Linked DNA regions of Homo sapiens: all the other regions are reported to be linked to region 1. The links are microRNA targets in miRTarBase. Many come from high-throughput screens and were not tested one by one. Region 1 holds a microRNA gene; each other region holds the end of a gene's coding sequence.

What was found. The annotated mature microRNA hsa-miR-625-5p reads AGGGGGAAAGUUCUAUAGUCC and lies in region 1 at 3,911-3,931, shown strand. An mRNA with a match to its seed (bases 2 to 7 or 8) in the 3' UTR can be bound and repressed. Matches are read on the target gene's strand: a 7mer-m8 pairs with bases 2 to 8, a 7mer-A1 pairs with bases 2 to 7 and ends in A, and an 8mer does both.
Region 2: the mRNA of FOSL1 is a reported target of hsa-miR-625-5p. Seed matches in the 3' UTR shown: 8mer at 4,577-4,584.
Region 3: the mRNA of TMEM86B is a reported target of hsa-miR-625-5p. Seed matches in the 3' UTR shown: 7mer-m8 at 2,181-2,187.
Region 4: miRTarBase lists KIAA2013 as a target of hsa-miR-625-5p. Seed matches in the 3' UTR shown: 7mer-m8 at 551-557.

The regions. Positions count from the first base shown.
Region 1 is chr14:65,467,206-65,475,429 of GRCh38, forward strand. MIR625 (microRNA 625) reads left to right here and starts at 3,897; the gene lies at 3,897-3,981. All of the region lies in intron 2 of FUT8 (fucosyltransferase 8), which reads left to right. It also overlaps the pseudogene RPL21P8.
Region 2 is chr11:65,889,185-65,897,408 of GRCh38, reverse strand. FOSL1 (FOS like 1, AP-1 transcription factor subunit) reads left to right here. Exons shown (of 4, transcript NM_005438.5): 2 at 403-600; 3 at 3,288-3,395; 4 at 4,113-5,360. The coding sequence ends at 4,523. It overlaps CCDC85B (coiled-coil domain containing 85B), which reads right to left and starts at 6,736. Exons shown (of 1, transcript NM_006848.3): 1 at 5,774-6,736. The coding sequence starts at 6,625. The coding sequence ends at 6,017. RefSeq lists enhancers at 3,075-3,184, 3,287-3,791, 5,076-5,235, 5,276-5,325 and a silencer at 6,466-6,945.
Region 3 is chr19:55,222,234-55,229,157 of GRCh38, reverse strand. TMEM86B (transmembrane protein 86B) reads left to right here and starts at 395. Exons shown (of 3, transcript NM_173804.5): 1 at 395-467; 2 at 721-967; 3 at 1,595-2,520. The coding sequence starts at 417. The coding sequence ends at 1,977. It also overlaps a transcript of PPP6R1 not described here.
Region 4 is chr1:11,917,586-11,920,585 of GRCh38, reverse strand. KIAA2013 reads left to right here. Exons shown (of 3, transcript NM_138346.3): 3 at 254-995. The coding sequence ends at 271. Among named protein-coding and RNA genes, the nearest start is that of KIAA2013, 7.3 kb to the left of the region's middle.

The DNA of each region.
Region 1 (8,224 bases):
TTTCTTCACTTTTGGAGGATACTTTTGCTGGGATTCTATAGGCATTCTAGTTTGGTATTTTATTTTATTTTTTTTAACAGCCCAGAGGTCTTATTTTATTTTATTTTTTTGAGATGGAGTCTCATTCTGTTACTCAGGCTGGAGTGCAGTGGCACGATCTTGGCTCACTGCAACCACTGCCTCCCGGGTTCAAGCGATTCTCCTGCCTCAGCCTCCTAAGTAGCTGGGACTACAGGTGCGCACCACCACACCTGGCTAATTTTTTGTATTTCTTTTCTTTTTTATTTTTGAGACAGAGTCTCACACTGTCGCCCGGGCTGGAGTGCAGTGGTGTGATCTTGGCTCACTGCAACCTCCACCTCCTGGGTTCAAGCGATCCTCCTGCCTCAGCCTCCTGAGTAGCTGGAATTAGAGGCGCCCATCACCACGCCCAGCTAATTTTTTGTATTTTTAGTAGAGAGGGTTTCACTATGTTGGCCAGGCTGGTCTCGAACTCCTGACCTCATGGTCTGCCCGCCTCAGCCTCCCAAAGTGCTGGGATTACAGGTGTGAGCCACCGTGCCCAGCCAGTCTAGAGGTCTTTTATTTTTTTTAACACCTGTTATGCTATGAATTCACAGGGAATAGGTTCCAGCAGCTCAGGCTCCTTCCCACTGGTTCTCACAAAGTGTGCTTCTCTGGATGGAGCAGGCTGGTGCTTCAGTAGAACCCGGGTACCTTTCTCTTTGGCTTCTTTCTTTTTCCGATCATTTTCCTTTACGTGTTTCAGGAAGCTATTTTGGCTCTTAGAGTGCTGAATGTGCTCAATACGCACATTAATTCTCTTGGCAAGAATCTTGCCCTTAACTTGTTTGTTGACAAGTTGTTTACAATACCAACAGCATGCTGAGTAACGTGTTTGTTTACAACTTGCTTACAGTGCCAACAGCATGTTGGGTAACACTGCAGACTCTTCCAGTTTTGCCATGATAACACTCGCGGAGCATTCCTTTTTGAATAGTACCCATTCCCTTGATGTCTACAATATCACCTTTCTTATAGATTCGCATACATGTGGCCAAAGGAACAACTCCATGTTTACTAAAAGGCCTAGAGAACATATATCGGGTGCCTCTCTTCTTTCCCTTTGTGTTCGTCCTTTTGGCGAATTACTGGAAGATGGTGGTTCCGGCCGAAAGGTTGGATTTTTTTTTTTTTTTTTTTAACACTAAATATTTCACTTCACTCTTTTTGCTTGCATGGTTTCTGAAGAGAAAGTTTGATCTAATTCTTTATTTCTCTGTGGATAAGATGTTTTCTGTGTGTGTTGATTTTTTTCTTTACCTCTTGCTTCTTTCGAGATATCTTATTGGTCTTAAAGTTAATAAGGAAAAAACTAAAGTTTTGCTTTTGATTTAGTTTTCTCTTTGTCTTATTTTCTGCAGCTTCACTATCATTTGCCTATGTAAATATTTTGGTATTTATCTTGCTTGGTGTTCTCTGAACTTCCAGGTTTGGTGTTTCTTACTAAAGACATTCTTTCCTGTTACAGTGTTATTGATTTGTACACTCCCCTTCCTCGCCTCCCCTCTTCACTGTTTTTTCCTTCTCTTTACTCTTCCTTTCTTTCCACAGGATCTCACTCTGTCACCCTGGCTGGAGTGCAGTAGTGGCGTGATCATAACTCGCTGCAGTCTTGAACTCCTAGGCTCAAGTGATTCTCCCTCCTCAGCTTCTCAAGTAGCCAGGACTACAGGTGTGTGCCACCATGCCTGGCGATTAAAAAAAAAATCGTAGAAACAGGGTCTCCAATGTTGCCCAGGCCGGTCTTAGAAAAAAGGACTTAGCTGGGCATGGTGGTGGCATGCACCTGTAGTCCTACCTGCTTGGGAAGCTGTGGCAGGAAGATTGTTTGTGCCTAGGAGTTCAAGGCTACAGTGCGCTGTGAATCACCACTGTACTCCAGACTGGGTAACAGTGAGACCCTGTCTCAAAACATATATATAAAAAAAAATTCCTGGTGATAATTTGATAATTCCTGGTAAAAATTTCTGCCACATCCGAGTCTGTTTCCGAGGCTTGCTTTGTTTCTTCAGATTGTATTTTTTGCCTTTATAGTGCCTCATAATTTTTTTTCATAGCCAGACAGAATGTATCAGGTAAAAGGAACTGAGGTAAATAGGCCTTTAGTGTGAGGTTTTATGTTTATCTGTTTAGAAGTCAGGCTGTGTTTAGTGTTTGTTCTGGCTGTGGTATCGGAGGCAAATGTTACGGGATCTTTAAGGTGTTGCTTTTCTGTCTAGAAACCTCTGTGGCCAGTGGCGCCTTTGCCCGAGTTCTTGTCCTGTGTCCAGGAAGAATTATGTATGCAGACAAGTGGAGGGTGAGCAAGACAAAGAGAAGCTTTACTGAGTGTTAGAACAGCTCAGAGGAGAGCTGCAGAGGGCAGCCCCTCTCTATAGGCAGGTTGTCTCATCCAGTGTTCAGCTCTCAGCAGAGAGGAGGCCCTGGAGTGAGTGGCTCCTCTCTGCAGGCAGGTCCCCATTGACTTCCCAGCTCTCAGCAGAGACGATAGCTCCTCTCTGCAGCTAGTCATCTGGCTGTCTCTCTGGCCTCTGCCCTGCTCTGGCTGATCTCGGGGCTTTTATGGACCTCAGTGGGGAGGAAGTGTGTCAATTGGTACATCGGTGGCCATGGGTGGGCTGGAAAAGGCACCACAAGCCCCCACTGCAGTCTGCGGGACTGGCAGCCCGGTCCCCAACGTTCAGGCCCTCCCTGGCCTGAAGGTGGGGTCTATCTGGGGACGTGCCCCCTTCCACCCAGGAGCCTGTCTGCTTCCTGCCACTTTCCATGGCTCCCAGGCTGCTTGTGCCAAGGGGCACCTGCCTGCCAGCATGGAGCAGCTCTCCACCTCAGCTTCCTCAGAGGGGGCCTAGGCGGCAGGGCCTGAGCATGCGCATATCCTGTTGGGCTGTGATGATATCCAGGCTTGGCTCCAACCCCACTCTGAGAACCTGCCACATTGGAGCCGGTGCGGGAAGTGGCAGCGGGAACAGGCATTTCCGAGCCTGCAAAGGCAAGGGGGGCCTTCCTGAGCCCCCAAGAGCACACGGAGGCCTGGGTCCACAACCCTGACTTGGGTAGCTGCAGCTGTATGGGGTTGGGGGACAGGGCTCCTGCCTGTTTCCAGTCCCCAAGAGCACATGGAGGCCTGGGTCTACCACCCAGGCTTGGGTGGCTTGGGCTGCTGCCTGCTCCTGGCTCCCACTGGCACTGTGGAGCATGCAGCCCTGGCTCCGCCCCCTTTCAGCCTGAGACAGGGGCTCCAGATCCTTGCTGGACCTGGGCTGGGATCCGGGGCAGGGGTGACATCGCCGGGAGCTACCCCAGTTGCCCTGGCGCTTCAGTGGCCCAGGCAGAGCAGATAACTGTCCGGCCTGGCTGTTGGGAGTGGCAGGCTCAGCAGTCGCCTGATGTGGGGTGGACCCTGGGGATGTAGCCCCGGGCAGCCCTGCACAGAGCCTCCTCCTGAGGCCCAGGAACCTGGCACCCTCAGTGGGGTGGGCGCAGTGGCTGTGTCACTGGCTGGTCCCTGAAGTGGGCACCGCTCCCACTTCCTGCCTCAGGCCCCTGAAGCTCAGCCTCAGCTCTGCATCGGTCTGCTCTCTGCTTGACTGTGCTGCACAGAGGGCGGCGGGCTGTTGAGGGAGGGGGTCTGTCCGCCTCTCCCTGTGCCGTCCATGTACCAGAAAGCCACCGCCATCACTATTAGAGGCTAAAATTTCTTCTACTGTCCTTGCTTTTATCTGCCCTGTTGTCTTTGGGTTTTTGTAAAGAATCCTTAAATGGGGTCTGAGGCTTGCAGGTTTTTAAGTTGTAATCCTGTGTTGTACAAGAGCTGTACTGATGTGGTGGTAAGGGTAGAGGGATGAGGGGGAAAGTTCTATAGTCCTGTAATTAGATCTCAGGACTATAGAACTTTCCCCCTCATCCCTCTGCCCTCTACCAACTGTGAGCCTGAGTTGAGTAACTGTCTCTTTTTCTCGGTCAAAGGATAGATGGGGCTGGAGTTGGGTATTTCCCTTCCCTCCGGTTGGTTAGGCACTGTAAAACCGTAGTAGGTTAGGCAATCTAAAAGCCAGTTGGTTAGGTTCTGGTAAAATAGTTTCCTTTTCTGGAATACCTTTTAAGAGAAATAAAGTTCCTGGCGTATTTCAAAATGGTTTTTCTTCTTCCCCTGCTGCAAGCAGGAGGGGTTTTTTTTCAGATCTTTACCATGAGAACCTGGTAGGGCTCCTGGAGGTAAAACTCAGGAAAGTATGGGGACCCCTGTAAGACTGGTCCCCTTACAGTTTTTAACTCTCAAGCTAGTCCACAATTACTGTTTCAAGTGTTCCTACTGATGCTGGCTTCAGTTGAGAGCTTGTATTCCTGGACTTCTGCTTCCTGCACACTGTGATTCTCTATCTGCCTGTCTTGTCTCTCCAGGTTTTAGAGCAGCAGTTTGCCCTCTGACCTCAATTCTCTGATGGCTCTAAGAAGAGTTGGATTATCAGTTTTTTTTTTTTTACCCCCAGCTTTTTTTCTTGTCGTGAGGTTGGGAGTGATGAATTACAAGCTCTTTACAACTGTACTTAAGGTTATTTTTTGACCATTTTTGATGCTTTTGTAACTAGTCAAAAGACTTATTACAGTATCCTTTATCTCATTTGGCAGTATTGTTCATTAAGAATTTTATCTCTTTCTGACATCAGGTCTGCACATTTTGGGGATAATATATTCTAATTTGCAAGAAAGATTAAAAAACTTCTCCAGAGGGAAGTTGATCATAGGACTGATTCTTATTATTGATGAATTGACTGCCTTGTCTTGTTTTGTGTTGCTATGTAGGAATACCTGAGGCTAGGTAATTTATAAAGAGTTTGATTTACCGCACAGTTCTGCAGGCTGTACAAGAAGTATGGCACCAGGATCGGCTTGTAGTGAGGGCCTTAGGCTACTTCCACTGATAGCAGAAGGCAAAGAGGTGCCAGCTTGTGCACAAAATGAGAGAGGAGAAAAGGGTGGGAGGAGGGGCCCTGGCTCTTTTTAACAACCAGCTCTTGGGGGAACAAATAGAGTGAGACCTCAAGCATGCCTGAGGAAGAGCATTAATTTATTCTTGAGGGTTCTGACCCCTCCCCACCATGCCCAACAACATCTCCCATTAGGCCCCACCCCCAACATTGAGATCAAATTTCAACAGGAGGGACAATCATCTAAGTGATAGCATAGACTCAGGCTATTTACTATTCTGTTTTCAAGTATAGATTGAGGGCAACAGCAGCCTTTGTTTTCTATGTTGATGGCCAAAGGTTTATTTTTATATTCTTATACTGTAAAAAAAAAAACAACTTTATTTTTATAGCCTTTTTGGGTGTAGGGTCATGTCAGGCTTTACTAATTGCACTTCTGATAAGTATACTGATGATGCTGAGGATGGTTATTAAAGCCCTATGCTGATACTTTGGATTTATGGAACCAATTAATTTGATGACTCATTTACATTGAATTTCTTAATTAGTAGATTGCCCACTAATTATTTTTATGAGCACAGAATAAGGTAATGTTTATTCTTATTTTTTTTGTGATATGGTAAAAAACTTAGTTCATATAATGAATTTAGTGCTCAAATATCTTAGTAGAAATTGAAGTAGAAAAAGACATTGTTGTAAATTAAATGTAAGATATAATTTTATTTTCTTTAGAAAACTTTACATTGAAAAGATCACATTATAGATAATTTAGACAACTTATTTATAACTTTTATTTATTATTATTATTGAATGTAAAAGAATTACATGCAGTCCCATGATCTTAACATAACTGTGGTTACCATGTTGGTATATGTGCCTTTTAGTCCTTTTTCATACACAATTTTTTTTACAAAGTTATAATAATAATTTCTTTTCAAATTTGTGCCTTATTTCAGTTAACAGTGTAAATGTTTCCCATTTCTAACAATGTTTTCTCATTGAGTGAGGTACTGTTAGGTTGGTCAGACTGATAGTTTATTGTACGTATTGCTGTAATATCTTTGTACATTTAGCTTTTCCATGTTTGTACCATATCTTTGGGTTTTCAGAAGTCTGTCTCTCTCTCTGTTTCTCTTTTTGTCTGTCTTTTCTATCTCTCACCTTCATTTGGGGAGCATTTTGTGTTCTCTTTCACAGGACTAATTAAGTTTTATTGGATCTTGAAAAACGGGATTAGAAATTTTTTCTTACTTATATAATTAGAAAACAATGCTTTTGGACTTACATTGCCACGGCAGTTTACACAGTTTTATTCCCAAAAATTGTAGTTTTGTGACTAGGTGATAAAAATGATCTCCTATATGTGCCAAACTTGGTATTCTAGACACTCATACTTAGGATGTAAATTGACTGTAGTCCAATAATTTAATATGTTGTGTTTAATTCTTGTAATATTTTACTCACAAATTGAACTTTTCCTTACCAATTTAATGTTTGTAGGCTTAATTTGGCATCTTTGTCAGGATTATTAGACTTCTCTGCATTCTTCTGACTTCTCCCTAAACTAATGTTTAGAACTGAATTGGGTCCAGCAATTTAAGTGGAAAATCAGTATGACTAGAGACTTCTAGAAACTTCTGGTGTCACTGAGATGGTGAATTTGATGATTCTGACCCTACTTGCTCATCTGTAAAAGCTATTAGAGGATTGTTTTAAGCATTTCTATTCTATACAGGTATATGTACACCATGTAATACCACTCAGCCATAAAGAAGAATGAAATAACATTTTTGCAGCAATTTGGGTGGAGCTGTAGGCCATTATTCTAAGTGAAGTAACTCAGGAATACAAAACTGAATACCATATGTTCTCACAAGCGGGAGCTAAGTCATGGGTACGCAAAGGCATACAGAATAGTAAAATAGACTTTGGAGACTGAGACGCGGGGAGAATAGGAAGAAGATAAGGGATAAAAAACGATATATTGGGTACAATGTATGCTACTTTGGTGATGGGTGTAGTAAAATCTCAGACTTCACCACTATACATTTCATCCATGTAACCCAAAACCACTTGTACTCCAAAAGCTATTGAAATAAAAAAGATATTTAAAAAAAAAGAGGCCAGGCAGGTTGGTTCACGCCTGTAATCCCAGCACTTTGGGAGGCTGAGGCGGGCGGATCACTTGAGGTCAGGAGTTCGGGACCAGCCTGACCAACATGGTGAAAACCTGTCTCTACTGAAAAAAAAAAAAAAAAGCCAGGCGTGCTGGCTCCCACCTGTAATCCCAGCTACTCATGGGGCTGGGCGAATCGCTTGAACCTGGGAGGCAGAGGTTGCAGTGAGCCGAGATTGTGCCACTGCACTCTAAGAGCAAAACTCTGTCTCAAAAATAAATAAATAAATAAAAAATTAAAAAAGATCTTCTGTTGTACCTAATCTTCTAGCCTTATTATTTCTTAGAGATTTTATAAATCCATGTGGCTTTTTTACTCTTGTCATCTTCAAGTTATTTGCCAAGATTGAAAAATAACCATCTTTCTCCTAATACCTTGGTGAGCCTGAGAGAAGAAAATACTACACAGTTCATTTTATTGTAAAAGTAGTGAAATTTCTCAACTGATATTCATCCTTCATTTTTGTGGATTTGTTCAGGGAAGATAAGATTTATTGTTTATTTTTATTTTGCTGTATTGCCAGGCTGGTCTGGAACTTCTGAGCTCAAGCAGTCCTCCTGCCTCGGCCTTCCAAAGTGTTGGGATTATAGGTGTGAGCCACCGCACCTGGCTGGAAGACAGGATTTTTTTGGGAAAGTAAATATCACTTGAGAATATCTACTAGTATGGAATCTAAAGTTATGCATACAAGGATGATCTCATATTTCTTTGTATCTTGTTCCCAGTCTTTCCCCCAATCTTGTCTCGCTTTTTCCTCAACAAGCGTAGTTAACAACTACTATGAATTTGGAATACAAAATGATAACGACCCTGCCTTTAGGAAACTGACAATTTAGAAGGTCAACTAGAAATATAAGTTAATAATTACAGTACAGGAAGTCCCCTGATTTCCTCTATAATAACATGTCTCCCAAAATGTGATTGAAAATAAAAATTCCACATGTCATAGGCGTAGGAGGTATTTGGGTGTTTGTATGGAGAGTCATTTCACAGAGCTAAAATTTATTATTATAAAATACTCAATTCTAGTTCCTGGGCATGTTATCTCCTTTG
Region 2 (8,224 bases), not on the chromosome of region 1:
GAGATCGTGCCACTACACTCCAGCCTGGGCAACAGAGTGAGACTCCATCTGAAAAAAAAAAAAGAAAAAAAAGAAAGAAAAGAAAATGAAGATATTACTGTGCCAATGATATGAGTCAGTATTTGTAAAGTGGTTAGAACAGTTCCTGGCAGTTTGTGCTTTATAAATGTTAGTTCTAATGGGGAAATGGGGGCACAGAGAGGTTATGTGACCTGCCCCAAAGCCACACAGCTTATGAGCAGGGATTTGCCACCAGGTCAGTCTCTGACTGCCAAGCTGTGCTCTTTCTGTTCCCAGAGCTAGCCTGTACATTGAAGGTAGACAGCAGTGTAGCCTCTGCCCAGTGGAAGCCCCTCAATCCACACGGACCTCATCTGTGGCCTTCCATTTCTTATTCCTTAGAAGTTCCACCTGGTGCCAAGCATCAACACCATGAGTGGCAGTCAGGAGCTGCAGTGGATGGTACAGCCTCATTTCCTGGGGCCCAGCAGTTACCCCAGGCCTCTGACCTACCCTCAGTACAGCCCCCCACAACCCCGGCCAGGAGTCATCCGGGCCCTGGGGCCGCCTCCAGGGGTACGTCGAAGGCCTTGTGAACAGGTAAGGCACAGAGGCATTGCAGTGGTTCCGACCCCGCCCAGGAGTGCTAGGGTGCAGAGAAGCTCCTGCCAGAAAGGAGAGCACAGGCTTAGGAGGGGGTAAGGTAGGCTACAGGTGACTACTGCCCAAGGCTGAAAGTGATAGGAGCCCCACGGGAGGCCCAGAGGGTACAACAGTCACTTCCAGATCAGGGAAAGCTTCCTGGAAAAGGTGGCATATTAGCCTAGAAGGATGGGTAGGACTGGCAGAGGCAGAGAGGAAGGAAAGGACATTCCAGGTAGCGGGGGTGGCAGGAGCAAGGATGGAGGCGGAGGCAAGAACATGTAAGGTGCGCACACGGAATGGTGAGGGGGTCTCCACCTGCTGACATGCATAGAGGGGGCGCTTATGTTGTCTGGGAGAGAACAGGAACAAGAGGGTTCCCTTCAGCTACTCCCTCAGTCTCAGTTTCCCTGTCTCATTTAATCCTCACAAAATCTCTCTGGGGAATGTACTCTGGTTTTCCCCATCTTCCACCAAAGAAATGAAGGCACAGAAGGGTAGTCACTTGCCCAAGATCACACAAGTAGTGAGTAATGACACAGGACTGGCCTTGGCCCCAGGTCTATACAACTCTAAAGTCAGATCCTAACCACCAAACCAGGGCCAGGTGCAGTAGCTCATGCCTGTAATCCCAGCACTTTGAGAGACCTAGGCAGGAGGATCACTTGAGGCCAGGAGTTCAAGACTAGGTTGGGCAACATAGAGAGACCCTGTCTCTACCGAAAAAACAAAATAAAATAAAACCCCCAAAACTAATCACCAAGCCACGCTGTCTCACTGGAAGCTAACAGAAGGCTCAAAGTAGAGGGAACTGACAATTCTTGGCTCCCCAAAGCCCTTACCAAAATAAGTGAGTAAGAGATGGCGAGTCTTTAAAGGAGTGGCTCATCTTTCCTCTCCCTGGGGCATTTTGGTGTGGGAGACTACAGGGGATGAGGTTAAAAAGCTTGGTCGGCAGGTAGAGGATGGGGAGAGAGGTTAGGGCCCTGGGAAAGGTGAGAGATCAGCCAGAGACAGGTTTCCCAGAACAGAATGTCTGGCCTTTGTGGTGAGGAGGGACTGTGGTATGAGCCGCAGAAGCGGGCCAGGGGTAAACCCTCCTGTGCGTCCTTCCTTCAGCCTGGTCCTGAGGGTGACCCTTTGATCCTGGGTTCTCCAGGTAGGGCTGTGAGCTGTGAGTTGGATCCTTTTGGTGAAATGGTCTCTCTCATCTGGCCTGTCACTCAATGTGGAATAGAGTGAGTGAGTTCTATGGGTTCTAAGTCCTGCTCTGGAACCATAAGTAAGTTATCCTCTCTGGGCTTCAGTTTTTCATGGAAAGTTGCGTTAAGAATCTAGTTTAAGGCCAGGCATGGTGGCTCACGCCTGTAATCCCAGCACTTTGGGAGGCCAAGGAAGGTGGATCATGAGGTCAGGAGATCGAGACCATCCTGGCTAACATGATGAAACCGTGTCTCTACTAAAAAATACAAAAAATTAGCTGGGCGTGGTGGAAGGCACCTGTAGTCGCAGCTACTCGGGAGGCTGAGGCAGGAGAATGGCGTGAACCCCGGAGGCGGAGCTTGCAGTGAGCCGAGATGGCACCACTGCACTCCAGCCTGGGCAACAGAGTGAGACTCCGTCTCAAAAAAAAAAAAAAAAAAGAATCTATGTTTTTTTAAAAAAGAGGCCAGCTGTGGTGACTCCCCCTGGTAATCCAAACATTCTAGGAGGCCAGTGCAGGAGGATCCCTTGAGCCCATGAGTTCCAGACCAGCCTGGGCAACACAGTGAGACCCCGTCACTACACAAAAAAAAAAAAGAAAAAAAAAGGCCGAGCACAGTGGCTCATGCCTGTAATCCCAGCACTTTGGGAGGCTGAGGAGGGTGGATCACCTGAGGTTAAGAGTTCAAGACCAGCCTGGCCAACATGGTGAAACCTCGTCTCTACTAAAAATACAAAAATTAGCCAGGTGTGGTGGTACATGCCTGTAATCCCAGCTACTTGGGAGGCTGAGGCACGAGAATCACTTGAACCCAGTAGGTGGAGGTTGCAGTGAGCCAAGATTGGGCCAATGCACTCCAGCCTGGGAAAGAGTGAGACTCTGTCTAAAAAAAATAAAATAAAATAAAATAAAATCTTTGCATGTTCTCAGTGAAAAACAAGAATCTACGTAAAGTACTTGGCTGGCACATAGTAGTTTTCCAATAAATTGCAACTTAATCAGCAGCACTCATTAGCCCCTCCTAGTGCTTACAGCTCATGGAAGAGGAGACTTGGTTGTCCACAGATCCAGAAGGATGAGGGTCCTGCAAAGAGGGTGCTGAGAAGGAAAGGTCACTTCTGGCTGGGGAATAAGACGGCTTCCTGGAGGCAGGAGCATCTTAGTTGAGTCCTGGGAGATGAGGAGGGTTAGGGTTTGCGGAGGGGGAGGGCATTATGGGAGAGGAATGTGCACTAAAGCTAGGTGCGAGGAGGAAATTTTACCAATCAAAGCAGACAGCGCCTCAGTGCAGGGAACTGGTTGGGTGCAGTGATCCCTAAATCACCGGCTGAGGGGGCCCTGCCATGACCTCTGCCAGGGTCCTACCACTGGGCCACCATGAGGGGCGAGTTCCAGGCAGCCAGTAGCCCAGGGTCCTCCTCACTGCGGGTCTCACCCCCAGATCAGCCCGGAGGAAGAGGAGCGCCGCCGAGTAAGGCGCGAGCGGAACAAGCTGGCTGCGGCCAAGTGCAGGAACCGGAGGAAGGAACTGACCGACTTCCTGCAGGCGGTGAGCACCAGCCCTGGTCCACCGAGCTCAGAGGGACCCTGTCTCCCAGAGCCCCCAGAGCCCCAGTATATGTAGCCCCCTCCTCACCATCCTAGCTCCTTGTCTGAGGGGCAGTCCTTCTGGGAAAATGATGAGGAAAAATTGATTAGAAACTGGCTGCAGCATGTCTCACTCACAGCAGAGCTGAAGCTCAGCCAGCAATCTCCTTTTTTTTTTGAGACAGAGTCTCGCTCTGTCACCCAGGCTGGAGTGCAGTGATGAGATCTCGGCTCATGGCTCACTGTGACATCTGTCTCCCAGGCTCCAGCAATTCTTATGCCTCAGCCTGCTGAGTACCTGGGGCTACAGGCGCCTGCCTCCCTACCCGACTAATTTTTGTATTTTTAGTAGAGACGGGGTTTCGCCAAGTTAGCCAGGCTGGTCTCAAACTCCTGGTCTCAAGTGATCCGCCCGCCTCAGCCTCCCAAAGTGCTGGGATTACAGGCCGGAGTCACTGCCTGGTGCCAGCAATCTCCTAAAACGTCTGGGCCTGATGGGAGTTGTGCCCATTTTCTCCCAGGGGCTTATGGGAGTTGTAGTCCAGACTTGCTGGGGACTCTCCACTGCCCCCCCTCTCCCCCCGCCCAACCCCAGCTCCTCAGAACCCTGAGTCCAAACGTCTGCGGCTCTGGGGTATTCAGCCCTCACCTTTCTGACTCCTCTCCTGATCTTCTACAGGAGACTGACAAACTGGAAGATGAGAAATCTGGGCTGCAGCGAGAGATTGAGGAGCTGCAGAAGCAGAAGGAGCGCCTAGAGCTGGTGCTGGAAGCCCACCGACCCATCTGCAAAATCCCGGAAGGAGCCAAGGAGGGGGACACAGGCAGTACCAGTGGCACCAGCAGCCCACCAGCCCCCTGCCGCCCTGTACCTTGTATCTCCCTTTCCCCAGGGCCTGTGCTTGAACCTGAGGCACTGCACACCCCCACACTCATGACCACACCCTCCCTAACTCCTTTCACCCCCAGCCTGGTCTTCACCTACCCCAGCACTCCTGAGCCTTGTGCCTCAGCTCATCGCAAGAGTAGCAGCAGCAGCGGAGACCCATCCTCTGACCCCCTTGGCTCTCCAACCCTCCTCGCTTTGTGAGGCGCCTGAGCCCTACTCCCTGCAGATGCCACCCTAGCCAATGTCTCCTCCCCTTCCCCCACCGGTCCAGCTGGCCTGGACAGTATCCCACATCCAACTCCAGCAACTTCTTCTCCATCCCTCTAATGAGACTGACCATATTGTGCTTCACAGTAGAGCCAGCTTGGGGCCACCAAAGCTGCCCACTGTTTCTCTTGAGCTGGCCTCTCTAGCACAATTTGCACTAAATCAGAGACAAAATATTTCCCATTTGTGCCAGAGGAATCCTGGCAGCCCAGAGACTTTGTAGATCCTTAGAGGTCCTCTGGAGCCCTAACCCCTTCCAGATCACTGCCACACTCTCCATCACCCTCTTCCTGTGATCCACCCAACCCTATCTCCTGACAGAAGGTGCCACTTTACCCACCTAGAACACTAACTCACCAGCCCCACTGCCAGCAGCAGCAGGTGATTGGACCAGGCCATTCTGCCGCCCCCTCCTGAACCGCACAGCTCAGGAGGCGCCCTTGGCTTCTGTGATGAGCTGATCTGCGGATCTCAGCTTTGAGAAGCCTTCAGCTCCAGGGAATCCAAGCCTCCACAGCGAGGGCAGCTGCTATTTATTTTCCTAAAGAGAGTATTTTTATACAAACCTACCAAAATGGAATAAAAGGCTTGAAGCTGTGGCCTGAGTGCCTCACTGGACCCAGAGGCCAATGGGAGAGTATTTGGAGCCCTAGGTCCCAGCCTTAGCTCTACAGACTCACTGCATGACCTTGGACAAATTCTTTGATATTTTTGGACTTTGTCTTATCTGACAAGTGGGGCTACATCCGCTCGGCCTCATCTCCGGGACTGAGGGGAGACAGTCCTCTGGGGTAAAAGCGAAGAGGCTTACCGCCCCTCTCCCCGTGGGGGCCCACAGTGCTGCTGCGTGTGCCACGGAGGGGCGCTGTTATGCCCCCTTCCAGCCTCAGAGGAGGCGGCCGAGTGGTTCTAGGCCCCCAGCACCTGCTTCCTGCCCCATTGTCTTGGACAGGAAGGAGCCGGGAAGGGAGCTGGAGCCACTTCAGGGGCTGGATTAAGGCCGGTCCCGGCGCCCGATGGGGGAAGTCTGGTTTACCACTGCCCCGCATCCCACCCCAGGCTCGAAGTAATGGGGGAATCATTAGTTCTGCAGTCCTTCTGGATGGGAATTGTACCCTGTATCAGCACCCCACCCTCGCCCCAACCCCGGCGAGTACCAAACAGACGCTGCCCAGGCCGTGGGCTCCGCTTCCGTCCGGGTTTATTACCCCCAATCCAACCCCCAGCAAGTCCCTCCGCTCCAGCCTTCAGTCCCCCTGCTGCCCTGCCAGCAAGAGCGAGGGGCCCTTCTTGGTGTCAGGATTTCTTAGTCCATGCCAGCGGCCCCTCCTGCGCAGCCAGGACGGCGTCCAGGTCCCGAGGTCCACAGCGGTCCCGGGGCTCGGGGAGCAATCCGGGCGGGCGTCGGCGTGGAGGAAGCAGTGCCTTCAATCATCGGGGGAACAGGCCAGGGGCAACTGATCCGGACTGCCCACGCTGCCAGTGCTGGAGCTTCCATCGCCTAGGTCGCGGGGCCCGCACGGGGGCAAGGCAAGCTCGGGTGCTGGCCCGGCTCCTGATCCCCCGGCGCCGCTGGGGCCGCCGCGGGGGCCCCATTCTTCGCCCAGCGCCAGGCAGAGCTCCTTAAGCGCTAGGTTCTCCCGCAGCAGCTCCTCCTGGCGGCCCTCCAGCTCGGCCAGCTTCTGCCAACAGCCGCCCAGGTCCTCGCGCACGGCCCGGGATGCTTGGGTCCCGAAGAGCTGCCACTGGCGTGCGGCGCGCCGCCCGCGCTGGCGCTCCGAGTCCAGGAAGCAGCAGAGGTCGCGCAGCTCACGGTTCTCTGCCTGCAGACGCCGGTTGAGCTGCTTGAGCTCGCGGATCTCGCCCAGGTGGCCCTGCAGCTGCCGATTCACCTCCTGCATGAGGCGGCCGCGCTGCACCAGTGCCGCCAGGCGCGCCGCCTCCTCCCGCCGCAGGCGCCGCACTAGCTCTTCCTTGCCTAGCGCCGCCATCTCCTCGTCCGTCAGCTCCTCCAGGCCGCCTGCCTCGGCCTCCATGGCTGGTCAGGCCTCTGGAGCATCGCCCGCCCGCCGCCGCGGCCCAGGAGCCCCACGTCGGGCCCGGCGCCACTCAGGCTCGGGCTCCGGCTCCGCACGCGGCAGGCAGTGGCCGAGGCAGCGTAGGCTGCAGCAGCTACCCGGGCTGGGCACGCGGCGGGGCGCGCGCCGGGGCGGGGCCGCATGTCGTTATGGAAGGACAGCCAATCCGGTGAAACGTCCCCGGAAAGGGGCGGGGCCTGAGCTCAGGGGCCGCCCCCCTCGTTCCCCACCCACTCCGGGTGTTACTGATCCTCGATGTCAAGGAACCCGCGCGTCATCGCCCTCCACATCGGTCTCAACCCGAAACTAGGAGCTTCGAACCTCCAAGTACCGGATCGCCCCAAGCTTGAGCCTAGGCCTCTCGGCTCTTCTGAGAAACAAGATTCAGGCGTCCGCCCCTGACTCCTGCCCATCCCCCACAGAAGTCAGATGGACCGCTCTCCAGTCCCTCTTTACCTTTGATCAAATTCGGAAGTCTCGGCCCACTAAGGATCGCTCCTGGTTCCTCGGAACCCTGAGTCCAAACGTCCTAGCTCACCAATAGACTACCCTCCCTCCCAGGGAGCGTTTCCTGCCTGGGGGGAGGAACATACAGGATTCGTTTGTTCAATAAACGTTTTTTATGTGCAAGGCCCATGCAGAAATAAATTTAACCAAAATACCGATTCCATCCTCAAGGAGGTCGCAGTCTGTCCGGGAAGTCAAGCTGTGTTAAGCAAGAAATAAATCCGGGAGGAGTATGGTCTGAGGGTCCTTAAGAGGGTTCCCAAAAGAGATGCTATCCAAGAGGCTCTGGTAGATCCATAGGACTTTGCCAAGTAAAGAGCTATTTCAGGGAGAGAGAATAACATAGTGAAAGACACTGGTGCCCGAAAGAGCCTAGCTGCTTTAGGAACAATGAGGATAGCTTGGTTTTTGAAAAGCAGATGTGTCGAGAAAATGCTAAGAGAGAGAGAGCGAGGCTTCAAAGGTAGGTAAAAGCCAGATTCTTAAGAACTTCCAGTACCAGGTTGGAGCATTTCCAAAGGCCACTAAGGATGTTAAGCAAGAGAGTAACATTTGTAAGGATGTTAAGCAAGGGAGTAACATTTTAAAATATGCCTTTAACTGGCCAAGATGGTGAAACCCCGTTTCTACTAAAAATACAAAAATTAGCCGGGCGTGGTGGGAGGAGCCTGTAATCTCAGCTACTCGGGAGGCTGAGGCAGAGAACTGCTTGAACCCGGGAGGCGGAGGTTGCAGTGAGCCGAGATCGCGCCACTGCACTCCAGCCTGGGCGACAGAGCGAGACGCTGTCTCGAAAAAAAAAATGTATTTAAAAAGATTGGGCTGATCTGTGTGGGCCGGACCCTGCGGGGAGGGGACATAAACAGGGAGATTAGTAACGGTGTCAAAGAGCAAGAGCAAGGAGAGCTAAGCAGAAAGACGGCTGGGGCAGCATCAGTGGGGGTGGAGAGGACAAACAGATACTAGAAATATTCGGGAGGCAAATCAGCCGAACTGAATGTGGGGAGAGAGGAGTCTGGAAGAACGCCCAGGTTTCTCGTATGAGAACTG
Region 3 (6,924 bases), not on the chromosome of region 1:
AGCAAGTGAAGGACAGACTCGCCTTCCCATCCCTCCAGGGGCACTCCTGCCAGCCAGCCCCTCTCCCGCTTCCCATGATGGGGTGGCTGTTGGAATTCTGCACCCCATCTCTTCTGATTGTTGGGGCCCAGGACAAGGGGACAGGCATTTGTGGGCCTAACCTCCCCAGGCAGATAGGAGGAGGAAGCCATGTCCCAGCAGGCTAGGGCAGAGGGACCCCCAGTGCCAACAGTGCTTTATCAGCGGGCGCCAGGCAGGGCCATCCCCAGGGTGAGGACAACATCTCCCTGGGCCCTGTTATCAGTCACAGAGTCCACAGGACGCTCCTTGGGTTAACGTGTAACCATGAGCCCTCCCCTCCACCCCCTGAAGCCACTCGCTCCCAGATTAGGTCGCTCTGGGGCTATCAGGCCAGCATGGACGCTGGCAAAGCGGGGCAGACCCTGAAGACTCACTGCTCAGCCCAGGTGAGAGCCTTCTGAGCTGTGCCTGGGGCTGGGGGGACAGGGCCCTGGAACCCCAGCAGCCGGCGGGTCTGGGAGCTGCTGTCCTTGAGTTGGTTGGGCCCTGGGAAGCTGGGTTCTGGCAGCCTGGTCCCTGAATGGGTCCAGCCTGTACAGCTGGGGTCCCAGGTGGGGGTGGGACAGGAGCCATGAGATCTGAGTCCCAAGAATGGGGGCTGGGCTGGGTTTCGGCTCAGTAGCTCCCCACTCCCCAAAGCGCCCAGATGTCTGCAGGTGGCTGAGCCCCTTCATCCTCTCCTGCTGCGTGTACTTCTGCCTCTGGATTCCCGAGGACCAGCTGTCCTGGTTCGCTGCCCTGGTCAAGTGCCTGCCCGTCCTCTGCCTGGCTGGGTTCCTGTGGGTCATGTCCCCAAGCGGGGGCTACACCCAGCTCCTCCAGGGAGCCCTTGTGTGCTCGGCTGTGGGGGACGCTTGCCTCATCTGGCCGGCAGCCTTCGTCCCTGGTGAGTGGAAGGTGCTGTGACGCTTTCCAGATGCCCGTGTGAGAGAGGCCCCAGCACTTGGATGGGAGCCTGGGTGCAGAGGGCTCCTGTGAGAGCTCCAGTGGTCAAAGGCACAGTGGGGGGCGCAGCCGTGACCGAGGCAGCTCACGCTCCAGCGAGGGGTGGGGGCAGGCGGTGTTAGGGCAGTAGCTGAGGTGGCGCAGAGGGCAGTGAGGACCTGCTGGAGGTACTGCAGTTTGAAGCAGGGTTGCTGAGGAAGGCCTCACTGAGGAAGTCACATTTGGGCAGAGCTGAAGGGCTGTATGCCTGTGTGGAGGAAGGGCGAGTGTAAAGGCTCCGGGGCAGGGACGTGTCAGGTGCTTGTAGCCCAGCAGGCCAGGGTGGCTGGCGCAGAGTGGCTGGAGAGCTGGAGGCCATGGGGCTTTGGAGGCCAAGGGAAGGTGGGGCCTCCTGGCAGTTCTGAGCAGAGCAAGGATGGACACTGCATGTGGGGAGACCTGCAAGGAGGCTCGGCCAGGGTGGGGCCTGGTGCTCTGGGATGGTCCTTCTCTTAGGCCCTGAGGGGTGACCTCGGGGCCATTCCCAGGATGGGCCTTCCTCACTGGTACCCCACCCCTCTCCCGCCAGGCATGGCCGCCTTTGCCACCGCCCACCTCCTCTACGTCTGGGCCTTCGGCTTCTCTCCCCTGCAGCCCGGCCTGCTGCTGCTCATCATCCTGGCCCCTGGCCCCTACCTCAGCCTTGTGCTCCAGCACCTCGAGCCGGATATGGTCCTGCCGGTGGCAGCCTATGGGCTGATCCTGATGGCCATGCTGTGGCGCGGCCTGGCCCAGGGCGGGAGTGCCGGCTGGGGCGCGCTGCTCTTCACGCTCTCTGATGGCGTGCTGGCCTGGGACACCTTCGCCCAGCCCCTGCCCCATGCCCACCTGGTGATCATGACCACCTACTATGCTGCCCAGCTCCTCATCACACTGTCAGCCCTCAGGAGCCCGGTGCCCAAGACTGACTGACTAGGGAGCTTGAAGGGCCGGTGTTCAGGCCCTCTCCTCCTGCAAGGACCTGGGCCTCCCAGCCCAGCCCAGCCTGAGAAATACCCTCAGCAGCGAAGCTTCCTGACGCCTGTCTGCAGGCGCCGCTGCCGCCGTCGCTTCTGGCTGAAGACGTTTGAGGACGATTTGCGGAATTCCAAGTCCACTACTGGGTTCCAGCTGCCTTCCCCCGGTTCTGACTCCAGATCCCTGGCTCCTCAGCCAGGCCCACATGGAGCCCTCCCAGCCACCAGCCTGCCTCCATGTTCACTGTCGGCCCCACAGCCTGCCCGCCCCCTGCTGCTGCTCTGAATCCGTTTTCCCTGTGGGTGTGGAACCGTAGATGTTGCTGTTACCGTAGGAGAGGCCTCGGGGAGGGTCATGATTGTGATAAACCATCGCGGTTAATGACAGCAGAAGGTTCTTTGTCGCTCCCCATGGACCAGGCCTGGTGCCCAGTGGGACCCTCCATGGCCCTCTGGTGGGGGGATTCGGGGGGATAAAGTGAGGATTGTGCAGAACTGAGCCAAGAGGACTGTTTGGTCTTTGTGTTAGTTTCCTGAGGCTGCTGTCACAAATTACCCCAAGCCAGATGCTTTGAAACAAGATGAATGGACTCTCCTGCAGTTCTGGAGACCCAAAGTCCAAAATCCGGGTGTTTTCCGGCCCATGGTCCCTCTTGAGGCTCCAGGGAAGAATCCGTCCTTGCCCTCTCGGCTTCTGGAGGCTCCCGGGAATCCCTGGCTTCCATCGGCCTGTGGCTGTGTCTCTCCGTCTTCATGTGACTGTCTTCAACTGGCAGCCTCCCTCTGTGTCCGCATCCTTCTAGGGACACAGGTCATTGGATTTAGGGCCCACCCTAAACCCAGGGTGATTCTATCTCAAGATCCTTAAGTATGTCTGCAAAGCCCCTATTTCCAAGTAGTGTCACCTGCAGAGGTATCTGGGGTTAGGACTTGGACATATCTTTCTAGGGGATACAACCCGCTGCAGTCACATGCAGTATCGGGAGAAGGGTGGGAGGCTTGAGGATGAGGGGTCTTGGAGGAGGGAGGGCGGCAAGGGGGTAGGAATCAAATGGGAAGGAGGAACCCAGCTGTGCTCCTTGTCAAGGCTGTGTGACCTCGGCAAGCTGCTATCCCTCAGGTCCTCAGATTCTGCATCTGAAGACTTGACAGGGTCCAAGCTGCTCTCCAAGACCCTATTTGACTTCTGCATCCATGATGTGCTTTCAGTGACTCATAGCAGAGGGGCGACTTCTCCATCCATGGTTAGCATTTAGAGACTCTTACAGCAGAGAGGCGACCTCTCTATCCATGACCTGCATTTAGGGACTCTTAGAGCAGAGGTGACTTCTCCATCCATGACCTGCATTTAGGGACTCTTACGACAGAGAGGGGACTTCTCCATCCATGGCCAGCATTTAGGGACTCTTACAGCAGAGAGGTGACTTCTCCATCCATGACCTGCATTTAGGGACTCAGATGTGAGAGTACAGAGGTGGGAAGGGAAGGTGGGGAGCCTGGAGGACGGGGACCAGGAAGGAAAGTGAGGACAGGAATCCACAGTTGGAGTGAGGAGAAGTGGAAGCTGAGGGATTTCCTTGAGGAAGGGTCAGGCATGAGGAGGATCTGAAGGATTGGACTCAGGTTCGAAACCTCCACTTCCTCCTCATCTCCTACCCTCTCCACTCAGACCTGGCGAAAGGTGGGGAAAGAGGAAATTGCGCAGTGAAGTGTAGCAGGAGGGACGGGGGTCTGGGTGTGCAGATTCCAGGGGCACGTGGGGCCTGCAGACATGAGGGGTTCCTGGAGGTGAGGGAGGAGGGGCTGGAACCTGGACTCCTGGGTCTGAGGGAGGAGGGGCTGGGGCCCTGGACTTCTGAGTCTGAGGGAGGAGGGACTGGGGCCTGGACCCCTGAGTCTGAGGGAGGAGCTGGGGGCCTGGACTCCTGAGTCTGAGGGAGGAGGGGCTGGGCCTGGACTCCTGAGTCTGAGGGAGGAGGGGCTGGGCCTGGACTCCTGAGTCTGAGGGAGGAGGGGCTGGGGGTCTGGACTCCTGGGTCTGAGGGAGGAGGGGCTGGGGGTCTGGACTCCTGAGTCTGAGGGAGGAGGGGCTGGGGACCTGGACTTCTGGGTCTGGGGGAGGAGGGGCTGGGGGCCTGGGTCTGAGGGAGGAGGGGCTGGGGGCCTGGACTCCTGCGTCTGAGGGAGGAGGGGCTGGGGTCTGGACTCCTGAGTCTGAGGGAGGAGGGCCTGGGGGCCCGAACTCCTGGGTCTGGGAGAGGAGGGGCTGGACTCCTGAGTCTGTGGGAGGAGGGGCTGGGGGCCTGGACTCTTGAGTCTGAGGGAGGAGGGGCTGGGCCCATAATCCCTGGTGTTTGGGGAACATTCTGGCTTTTGGTCCCTGGGCTCTGTGGGGTCGGCAGTCCAGAGCGACGGGACGCTGCTCTCCTGTCGGCATCCAGCAGCCCCAGCGTCGTGTCCCTCCTCCCTGATTCTGGTCCCCCGACGACCTTTCATCTGACTTCTCAGAGGTCTGCTTTCTCATGATCTGATTCGTGTTTCTCTAAAGCGGGACTCTCGGAGGTGCTGCGCACATCCCTCTCAGGCTCCTTCCAGCCCTGCCGGGACCCAGACCTGGGGCAAGGGGCAAAACGCCGGCTCCATCTTCCCTCCCAAGCCGGGGTGGCTGGTGGGGATGAGGCGGGGTGGGACTCAGCAGCCTTCATCCCGATCCTGCAGGTCAGACCACCGTGGGTCTGATTCCCCATCTGGGCCCTCCCCAGGCCCTCGGGACCACGACAGAGGCCACAGCAGCAGGTTAGTGACCCCATCAGCCTCCATCCTGCACGTCTAGGAAGGGCCGTGGGATTCCGTCTTCTGTTTGCCGCAGAGGCTTCTACCCATGTCAGCCGCCAAAGCAGACAGAATCGTGAGTGTGGAGGCTCGGACCTCCAGCTCCATCACCCTGAGCTGGGCAGCCCCAAGGGCCCAGACCGGCAGACTTCCATCTACTGGGTCCAGGGGCATGGCCAGCGGGAACACAAGCACGTCACACTGCTGGCTCGTGGTGGAGGGCTTCAGCCTGGGACCCTCTACACCACCTCTGTGTGGGCCAAGAAGAAAGGAGTAGGTGGCCCCAGGGACGTCCTGAGCATGTCTACAGGTAAGAGGGGCCACCTTTCCACTGCCCAGCAACATGTGCGTGTGTGTGCACGTGCACTTGTGTGTGCATGTGTGTTTGCGTGTGTGTGCGCGTGCGTGCGTGTGCACATTTGTAAAAAGTGCCAGGCTGTGCACTTTATTCTCATTAGAGCCACAAACAAACTTTATCAAATGACTCTCTCCTTTCCACATTCCCAAACTAGTCCCTGGCCTGGTCACACCGGCTCAGACCACCAGCTCCCTCACCCTGAGGGCCCCGCAGGCCCAGACTCCAAGACCTGCCCCTACTGGCTCTGCTGGGCCAGTGACTCCTCAGACATCAGGGTGCCTGTGGAGGGCCTGGCTGCAGGGACGCAGTACCCCAGCATGTGGGCCCAGAAGCATGAGGTCAACAGCCCCAGCCAGACGCTCACAGAGGCCACGGGCGAGGGGTGAGAGCACTCTGGGCTTGGGGAGTAGGAGGCCTCAGGAGGCCTCTGGCATCGGCCCCACTGATAGGGTGCATCCTTCCAGAGCAAGCAGGGCTGTGGGAAGGAGGGGATGCTTCCCTTTGCTCTGGAGGCCCAGGGACTATGGGGTGTGGTCTGTGAAGCAGGTTCACTGTGCACTGGTTACCAACTTGCCAGAGTGATGAGACAGAACGCCACACGCAAAAAGTTACATGAAGTGGGCTTGTTTCTCACAGATGGGCAGCAAGGGACAGCAGAATCCCAGGGTCCGTTGTAAGCTGGTCCCCCAAGGCTTAGGAAAGTGGCCTAGGGAGGATAGGGTCACAACTGTGTGTGCCTCACTTGTATGGCAGCTGAGGGACCCCAAAAAGTACCCAGCCCTGGGTTTTCTACTCTGGGGGAAACCTGAGTCACCGGGCTCAAGCATTGAAGGGCATCCTGTTTCTAGGGCAGGCAGGAATGGAGCCCAGGCCGCCTGGCCAGTCCCTCCATATCTCCGGATGTTGCATTCCCAGCACATTCTACTGTTACTCTTGAGAACTACAAGTAAGAGACAACTGGGTCTGTTTAAGGCCACTCAGATAACCTTCCTGCAGGAACCCTGACCCCCTTCCCTTCCTTTCCTTACCCGGCCAGGTCATGGATCTGAGGATACAGGCTCAGACCCTGAGTTCTGTTACACTAAGGTGTATATCCCCCCGGGGCCCAGACCCCCACACCTACACCTACTGGGTCCAGTGGGCAGGGACCACGGCCCCCAGTGGGACCAGAAGTGTGGCAGAGATGGGGTTGTGGTGGAGGCCCTGGAATCTGGGGCTTCATAAACCTTCATTGTGTGGGCTGAAAGGCGAGGTGGCTCATGCCTGAAATCCCTGCACTTTGGGAGGCTGAGGCGGGTGGATCACCTGAGGTCAGGAGCTCGAGACCAGCCTGGCCAATACGATGAAACCCTGTCTCTACCAAAAATACAAGAAAATTACCTGGGCGTGGTGGTGCATGCCTGTAATCCTAGCTACTCAGGAGGCTGAGGCAGGAGAATCACTTGAACCCGGGAGGTGGAGGTTGCAGTGAGTCAGGATCGCACCACTGTGCTCCAGCCTGGGCGACGAGCAAAATTCCATCTCAAAAAATAAATAGTCGGTCACGGTGGCTCACGCCTGTAATCCCAGCACTTTGGGAGGCCAAGGCAGGCAGATCATGAGGTCAGGAGTTCAAAACCAGCCTGGACAACATGGTGAAACCCTGTCTCTACTAAAAATACAAAAATCAGGCATGGTGGCACATGACTGTAATCCCAGCTACTCGGGAGCCTG
Region 4 (3,000 bases), not on the chromosome of region 1:
AATGAGCCAAACTACCTTCATGGGGTACTGACCGATCTCTCCTTGACTTAGGCTCAAGCTGGGCCATGCCAGAGTGGAGCCAGTGAACACTCAGCTCCAGAAGGGCCCAGGCCACTGAGTCCGTGGTAATTCTGCAAGGCTGGGTCAGAGCCAGGGTGTGGTGCCACTAGGGTTGTCTCCGTAGCCTATTTCTATAGCTGGCCACTGGGGTTGGCAGTGAACAGTAATCACACTTGTTTTGTGAATTGAACAGGAAGATCCCAGTGTCTGAGTGAACTAACAGTCCTGCTTTCAGCCACCATTTGCACAAGACACCCAGCACTGAAAGTCCCGCTGCCAGGAGCAAGGGATCCTTTGGAAGCACCCGCCCTTTGTGCCTTGTTGGGGGAAACCGGTGACGCAGAAGTGAGTGTGGATACACCAGAGTTTGCATTGGAAGGAATGAGTGTCACGTGGGGAGGGAAGGGGCCAGTGGACCTTTTGTAAGCTTTCCACTCAATAAAATGAACCTGTATGGCAAATACTTGAAATGGAACTCACTCCTTCCACTTTCCCCCTTTCTTCTGTCCCAGGAAATAGATCATCTTTTGAAAAGACTCTTGTCTAGGAAAAGTTGTGTCCTTTTCCTAATTTAACGTGTTCTTTCTTAATGAAGTTTTAATTTATTTTTGTTGAGATTTTGCTAGATGGCTTTTGCATCCCCTGTAGATGGTGAGTGTTGGCGGTGATGTCCATCTCGGCGTTCGGAGGCCCCACGGTCCCGAGGCTGGGCCGGGGCCCCCCAGGGTGGCTGTGCTGCTGCCTGTAGGAGGGTGCGGGTTGTGCTGTCATCCTCGGGTTTGCACGCCCTTTTTTAGGAGCCTGTGGACATCTGTGGTTTTGTACTTTGGGGCTTCAGGGGAGGTGTTTAACTTTCTAGTGATTGATGATTGTCAGGTTTTGAAATACCAAAGCTTTTTTGTTCTGTTTTTAAATAAATATCTTTCAAACTTTCACGACCGGTTTGTGTGTGGTTGAAACCTGGAGACATGCACCACGTCTGCCCTCAGCACTAGATCTGTCAGAAGCAGGACACCCACCCGGCCCTGCTGTCACAATGCTATTCCTTTCTGGTATGTTCTACCTCTCTTCAAAGGAGTCTGCCCAGAAGATGTGTTGTTTGCCACCTTTCTGCTCGCCAGGGGGTTGCTGAGTGGCCCTGCTGAGTGGGTTGCTTCTGGCATTACCCTAGCTCCTTCCCTGCTAAGATGCCCTCTCCCCCACCTGCCCTAAAGAGCCAGGGTTCTCCTGCCCTGGGTTTTGCTGGCTATAGGACGTCAGCAAGACAAACCCTGAGTGGTTCTTCTCCAGGTTGTCTGCTGAAGCCACCATCAGATGCCTCCCCTCTGTGGGGAGGAGAAGGGTCCACTCTGGGGACCAAAAAGGGGCCGAGCCGGGCATGGCAGTCCACCTGCGGGGCTGTCCTCAGCGTCTTGGCGTTTAGACTTTCTCTGCGTTCCCAGACAGCATTTTAAGCAGCATGACTCACCGGGAAGCCTGGTCTGCCTGCAAAGCAGCCAAATGTCTGGCCCACAGCCGATGGTTATGAGAGTAAACTCAAGCTCTGCTTTTAGTGGCACTGGTCACCCACTTACTTCTGTCCATGCAGCACCTTCTCCCCTGGCTCATGCAGAGCTCTGACATGTGATCTTCCAGCCGTGGGCCACGGGCTGGTTCACCTATTACAGAGTGGGAACCTCCTGGGGTGCAATTGGTGTCATTTACAGTGTGACATTAAACGGAAAGCTGTTAGACCACAACAACTGCAGCTCCCATTCCTTCTTGAACTTGGAACTGGGCATGTTGTAGGCTCCCATAAATGTAAAACAAGACCGGGCGTGGTGGCTCACGCCTGTAATCCCAACACTTTGGGAGGCTGAGGTGAGCAGATCACCAGAGGGCGGGAGTTCAAGACCAGCCTGACCAAGATGGAGAAACCCCATCTCCACTAAAAATACAAAATTATCCAGGCGTGGTGGTGCATGCCTGTAATCCCAGCTACTCGGGAGGGTGAGGCAGGAGAATCACTTGAACCTGGAAGGCGGAGGTTGTGGTGAGCCGAGATCGCGCCATTGCACTCCAGCCTGGGCAACAAGAGCGAAACTCCATCTCAAAAAAACAAACCTTTGTATGTGGTGCCTGAGAAATACCTATCGAATGATTAGAATGTCAATAAACTGAGGTTTGTAAAGTACAGCTCTCATTAAGTGCTCACCATACGTGTTAGATATTTCACATCAACATGGCCTTTTGGGATGAAGAGGTTGCTGGGGGTTAAGATCCCAGTTTGAGAGATGTGGAACCTGGACCTCACACAGTGAATCATTTGTCCAAGGCCACGCGACCATGGAGTGACTGGAGTGCAAACTCTGCCTCGATGCCGGTGCAGGCTTGCTTGGATCCCCACACTGCCATTTCTCCCCATGGTGTGCGTCTGATGGCTTCTGTGGCATGGCTCAGTGTCCACAGGGCTTCCAGCTGGCCACCATGGTAGAGAGGAGATGCTGGTGGTCCATGGTGGAGCGGGCCAAGCAGTAACCCTGGTGGGTCCCATCTGCACGGTCCAGTGGAGGCTGTGGCTGCACAGAGAGCCTTTTTCTTTTTTTTCTTTTTGAGACAGGGTCTCGCTGTCACCCAGGCTGGAGTGAAGTGGCACGATCTCGGCTCACTGCAAGCTCCACCTCCCAGGTTCATGCCATTCGCCTGCCTCAGCCTCCTGAGTAGCTGGGACTGCAGGCGCCCGCCACCACGCCTGGCTAATTTTCTGTATTTTTAGTAGAGACGGGGTTTCACCATGTTAGCCAGGATGGTCTTGATCTCCTGACCTCGTGATCTGCCCGCCTCGGCCTCCCAAAGTGCTGGGATTACAGGAGTGAGCCACCGCGCCCGGCCACAGAGAGCCTTTTTCAAATTGCTTTTTCAGGGCCTGAAATCTGGTGTGGAAAATTTAATTGCATACTA